Regions from separate parts of the Homo sapiens genome. Here region 1 is reported to be linked to region 2. The links are microRNA targets in miRTarBase. Many come from high-throughput screens and were not tested one by one. Region 2 holds a microRNA gene; the other region holds the end of a gene's coding sequence.

Region 1 (3,065 bases), not on the chromosome of region 2:
GGGTTGCAGTTCCTAAAGTGCAGCTCTGGGGCCTGGGTCCCGCCGTCCCCCTGTGCACCCTTTCCACCCCTTTCCTTGCTTACTGTCCTGTTTGTTGTTTGGTGTTCACATGGGCAGAGACATCCAGCAGGAGGCCTTCCGAGCCAGTCACACCCACTGGCGGGGCGTTTCCTTTGTCTACAACCACTACCTGTTCTCTGGCTGCTTCCTGGTGGTGCTGCTGGCCATCCTGCTGTACCTGCTGCGGCTGCGGCGCATCCACAGGCGCACTCCCCGGAGCAGCTCGGCCGCCGCCCTCTGGATGGAGGAGGGCCTTCCCGCCCAGAATGCCCCGGGGACCTTGTGATCCAGCTCACAGCTCCACGAAGACTCAAAAGGAAAAGCCATTTTTGCCTCAGGGTTTCTCCTCTTTATTTTCCTGTGGTTTTGTTTTTTCTTTCCCTTTTTTGTTCCTCCAAACAAAAACAAAATGCAGGCCGAGCGCGGTGGCTCACGCCTGTAATCCCAGCACTTTGGGAGGCCGAGGCGGGCGGATCATGAGGTCAGGAGATCGAGACCATCCTGGCTAACACGGTGAAACCCCGTCTCTACTAAAAATACAAAAAATTAGCTGGGTGTGGTGGCGGGCGCCCGTAGTCCCAGCTACTCAGGAGGCTGAGGCAGGAGAATGGCATGAACCTGGGAGGCAGAGCTTGCAGTGAGCCGAGATCACACCACTGCACTCCAGCCTGGGCGACAGAGTGAGACTCCGTCTCAAAAAAAAAAAATGCATTGTTTATAAGCCCTGCTGTCTAGAAGTATTGCGTTTAGCCATTTTGAGTACAGCATTAAATTGAGGAGTGGGGAAGAGGGAAATTCACTTGATTTTTGCTGCACAGGATATCTGCCAAAAATAAATGAGATTTCTGGGGTTTCTCTAAGGAATGTTAAATTTAAACACATGCACTTTGATACTGGAGGGAGGTGGAAAGATGCATTCTGTCAGTGGAGAGGGGACTGAATAGTGATGCTTTCATAGAACCAAAAAACTTACTGCCTGAAATGATAATCCTCTTTTTTCTCTATCTTGAAAGCTCTAACCTGAAGAGGGTGATTTTTTTTTTTATTTATTGTTCAGGTCTGTTACTGTATATGTTTTCTTTGCAAATTTAAATTTTTTAAACCATTTATATCCAAAACAGAGAAACATGGGCACCAGGAGATAACCATTTATAAAAGTGATAGTGAACTATCGACTACAGCTTTGTGCGAGTGTGTGAAAAATCCCAAGAAACCAGCGTGAGGGGAGGCAATGCTGGTTCTTTAAAAACACACACTTCAGAATTTACTGGTACATTTTATTTAGAAAAATCCTCGTTACTGTTATCTTTTCCTGACCGCAGGTAATTACGCTCCTTATTCCATATTTCAGTGGCATTAGAACACTGTGGTTTTGAAAGAATTGGAAATTCCTAGTTTCACCAGTTTCGGTTTTATTGGAACTAGAGCACATGCCCACTTCTTGCTCAGTATTCCTCAGTGTTTCTGCTTAATCGTGCCTCAGTTTCTTCCAGCTTCCAATTGGTGTTTCCCCCACCCCCCTTAATTAAAAGTCATCTCAGCTTTTAATCGTACTGGGAGACCCCATGCACAGCCTGCCGAGTCCTCTTCCTAACCGCATTGACTGAGGCTGTTGCTGGCAGCACCACTGTAAATCCAGAAGGGAAGAGTCTGCATCCAATACAGGAAATAAATTCACATTTTGAAGGAAAAAATTCGACAATTTAAGCCAAAATCTAAAAAGGACAATTGGATTGGCATATGTGAGATTGGTGTTTTTTCACCTATTTATTTAGTTGAGAAGTTTGGGGAATTCTCGTACAGTTTTTTTAGGTGGAGTTTGTTTTGTGCGAGTGTCTGTGTGTGCTGTTCCCTAACTCCAGAACAGTTAAATTCCTGTAGTTGGTAGCAGATTAGTACCCAGAAGTGGGGTTGTTGCTATAACAGATAACTGAGGATATTATAAAAGTGGCTTTGGAACTAGGTACTGGGCAGAGGCTGGGAGAGTTTGGAGAAACAGGAGAGAAAAGGCCTGTATTGCCATGAACTGAGCATTAGGGGCAGTTCTGCTGAGGGATCAGAAGAGAAGACCAAGGGAATTCTGTCCCAGTTGTGGCTCAAACTGCCTCAGGTGCAGCTTAACCTGCGTCTCTGGAAGGTAAAATGCATCTGATCCTTGAGGCAAGAGCTGTGGGGGCATGGCTCCCTCACCTGGATTTCAAAGCGTGTTACCAGCAGCCTGGGGACCCAGGCTCTGCCTCTGGATTTACCTGCATCGTATTTGCGCTTCGTGGTCAAAGTTGTTAAGAAAGGGGTGAGCTTCTGGCTACCTAATAAGTTGGTCTTGGCCACCTGCCTGCGACACTTCCTGGAGGAGCCATGGATTATTGGTGGAGGCTGCAGGGAGCTGGCGATGGAGCCACTGGTGTCAGCAGCAGAGAGGGAAGAAAGGAAAGGAAGGGGCCACAAATGGTTGAAGTGGGCAGGTGGGCACCCAGGGAGTTAGGGGACCCCGCCTTCCAGCTCTGGGCATAGAAGAGTTAGTCACATACCTGAGGATCCTGAAACAAGGGCTGAGAAAACCTCATTGCTCCAGCTGAGAGGTAGTAGTGGATTTGCCATTTTTAAACAGTTGCCTAAGAAAAAACGTTGAAGAATATGCAGCAGACACTATATGTGGCCTGTAAAGCCTAGAATATTTACTAAAATATTTACAGAAAAAGTTTGCTGGTCCTTGTGAGAACAATGCAGTTCAAAAAAGGATACAGACAGAAGCATCCTCTTAAATCAGGAATGTAGTTTCCATTTGTGGGCACGAAAAGATGGACAAGAGAAGTAACCAAACTTCAATCTTAAAATATTTGTTGCACCAGAATTTCACTTCGGATTTTTCCGTCTAGATTATTTTCAAGATGAGTTTTGAAACAAACCAAGAAACCTGCCCCTCACCCAAAATTGTTTAAAAAGAGACCACTCAAGGGAGTTCATTATGCCGTATGGAGATGTCTGCAGTCGCAGCAAATCAC
Region 2 (3,125 bases):
AAAGTGCCATTTTCCAGCTATTTGGAACTACTGTCGAGTTTGTATTGGGGCCAAGCAGTGTTGCAGAAGAAAATAAGGCGTTTAGGTTTTAGGTCAGGTGTAAGTTGAAGAGGTTTTAAATTCTTGAGCACACAGGCTAAGGGAGAACAAGGAGGAATGGAGGGTGGAAGGTTGCCCATAGTGAAGGAAGCAAACCCAGAGAAAAGAGAGCGTAGAGACACAGAGGGAAGGGGTTTGGGGGTTCTTGCCCCCTAGAAAAGCGGGACTTGCCACTAAGGGTGAAGGAGAAGGGGTTGAGGGGTACTTGCCCCTGCCCCAGGAAAGCGGGACTTGCTGCTAAGGGTGAAGGAGAAGGGGTAGAGACAAGGAGAGAAGGGGTTGGGGTACTTGACCCTGCCCCAGGAAAGCAGAGAAGGGGTAGAGACAAGGAGAGAAGGGGTTGAGGTACTTGCCCCTGCCCCAGGAAAGCGGGACTTGCCGCTAAGGGTGAAGGACCAAGGCAGGCCTCCCTGCGTGGTCTGACACCCTTGAAACGTGGGTGTATAATCAGAGAGGCATCCCTGCAATGATTAAACACCAAGGGAAGGCTGCCTTCCCATTCCATCACCCACGCCAGAGTTTTGGGTCCACGGATAAAATGTGTCTCTTTTGTCTCTACCAAAAAATGAAAGGAATTGAAATTAAGAGAAGGGAGAGATTGAAGTGTAGCGCCAAGATTGAAAGGAGAAAGAGGTTGAGGGATAGTGAGGGAAGTTGGAGAAGAGAGTAAAAGGAGGCCGCTTACCAGATTTGAAATTGGTGAGATGTTTCTTGGGCTGGTCGGTCTGAGGACCTGAGGTCGTAGGTGGATCTTTCTCATGGAGCAAAGAGCAGGAGGACGGGGGATTGATCTCCCAAGGGAGGTCCCCGGATCCGAGTCACGGCACCAAATTTCATGCGTGTCCGTGTGAAGAGACCACCAAACAGGCTTTGTGTGAACAATAAAGCTGTTTATTTCACCTGGGTGCAGGTGGGCTGAGTCCGAAAAGAGAGTCAGCAAAGAGTGGTGGATTATTATTAGTTCTTATAGGTTTTGGGATGGATAGGCGATGAAGTTAAGAGCAATGTTTTGCGGGCAGGGGTGGATCTCACAAAGTACATTCTCAAGGGTGGGGAGAATTACAAAGAACCTTCTTAACGGTGGGGGAGATTACAAAGTACATTGATTAGTTAGAGTGGGGCAGGAACAAATCACAATGGTGGAATGTCATCAGTTAAGGCTATTTTTACTTCTTTTGTGGATCTTCAGTTACTTCAGGCCATCTGGATGTATATGTGCAAGTCACAGGGGATGCGATGGCTTGGCTTGGGCTCAGAGGCCTGACAATCAGTATTCCTGACATTTTGATACTGGCATCAATTTTCAAATTTCATGAGCTCTCTATCTATGAGACGTTCTGGTTATTGGAATTTCCCCCCAACCTGGCCCTTTAAAGAGATGATATCCCTTACGATAAGCTCCCTTTAACTGCCTTATCATTTCTGGTTCAAGTTGATGAATCAGAAGCATAAGAAAAAGACTTATATTTTTCTTTATTTACTCTATAAGTATTTATTGAGCACCCATGATCAGGACATTGTTTTAAGTTTTGGAGACATACGAATGACTAAACTCAGAACTATACTCTTAAGGATCTGATAGTTTATCAGGGATGACAGAGAAAAAAATGAATGATTTCCATTCAATGATATAGGTTCCTTCGTATAAATAATTATGGGGCACAGTAGATACTAAAGGAGAGAACAGGGAAAGGGCAACACAGAGGAAGTGACACTTATGCTGTAGCTTAAAGACTAAGTAGGAATCTTCCAGGCTGACAAAAAGAAAAAAATAGCACTCAGAATAGGCTACAGTATCTACTAAAACAGAGAGTAGTGTAAAAGCATGACTATGAAATCACAGCATTATTTTGGTTATATTCAGCTTGATTCTAGGAAAACTCACAATCGTTACATCTTTAGTAAATCTTTTTCAATTAATCTTTAAAAATGGAAACTGGTAGCATATTTATACATTTTTATACATGGGCCTTATACTTTAAGTGTGAAGTTCATCCTTAAATTCACAATGAACTTCAGTTTCAGCCAAATATTTTACCGTTTGTTTTCCTTTCACCCTGTTAAAACAAAGATAAACTGTAGTAAATAAAAATGAAAGTAATGCATCAATGAGAAGAGAAGTTTCTGTAGTTTTGCCTTTGTAATGACACCCACTTTGATCTGTCAAGAAAGAGACTGGGTGCAGTGGTTCACACCTGTAATCCCAGCACTTTGGGAGGTTGAGGTGGGAGGATTGCTTGTGTCCAGGAGTTTGAGACCAGCCTAGGCAACATAGCGAGACCTTGTCTCTACAAAAATAAAAATTTAGCAAGGCATAGTATGTGCCTGTAGTCCCAGCTATTCAGGAGGCTGAGGTGGGAGGATGGCTTGAGTCCAGAAGGTCAAGGCTGCAGTGAGCTGTGATGGCATCACTGTATTACAGCCTGGGTGACTGAGACTCTGTCTCCAAAAAAAAAAAAAGCGAGAGAGAAAAAAGAAAGGAGACCATTTCAGGGACCTGTATTCTAGTCTAAGCTAGTGTGGCTGTTCTCTTAGGTCATGGTTAAGTGGTGTAGGAGGAAGACATTTCTGCTCCGTCCTTCCCACTCACCTCCTAGCACTCAGCTAAGAAAGAGGAGCTGCCGCCCTGGTATATCTATCAGCCTCCAAGACACTGAGGCTTACTTTACTTCTTTCACCAGGCGTGGCATTGCTTTATGATAAAAATGCCATGTTAATCTTGAAATATTCTCGTCTTTCTTTTTTATATGTTTTGTGGCTGGATTCTAGAGAATTTACCAACAAACTCAGTCAACTTGCTGTCTCCTCCATTTTTTTTAACCTAATAGATCTATGTGATACTCAGATACTCCCAAGATATAGCTTTGAATGGGGCCTGGGGTGATACGGGTATTTTTAGCCAAAGCCACAAAGCCTGTGCCAGAAATATGCTTTTGTGGTCATTGGTCACTGACTCCACAGTTACTAAAGTGATGCTCTATTTTCCATTTTTTGCTATGTTTCCTTTTAGAGAGCTAATTTAGGAA

Evidence for each region. The annotated mature microRNA hsa-miR-4454 reads GGAUCCGAGUCACGGCACCA and lies in region 2 at 909-928, shown strand. An mRNA with a match to its seed (bases 2 to 7 or 8) in the 3' UTR can be bound and repressed. Matches are read on the target gene's strand: a 7mer-m8 pairs with bases 2 to 8, a 7mer-A1 pairs with bases 2 to 7 and ends in A, and an 8mer does both.
Region 1: miRTarBase lists ENTPD4 as a target of hsa-miR-4454. Seed matches in the 3' UTR shown: 7mer-A1 at 531-537.

What each region holds. Positions count from the first base shown.
Region 1 is chr8:23,430,207-23,433,271 of GRCh38, reverse strand. It overlaps ENTPD4 (ectonucleoside triphosphate diphosphohydrolase 4), which reads left to right. Exons shown (of 13, transcript NM_004901.5): 13 at 118-3,065. The coding sequence ends at 346. Among named protein-coding and RNA genes, the nearest start is that of ENTPD4, 26 kb to the left of the region's middle.
Region 2 is chr4:163,091,410-163,094,534 of GRCh38, reverse strand. MIR4454 (microRNA 4454) reads left to right here and starts at 907; the gene lies at 907-961.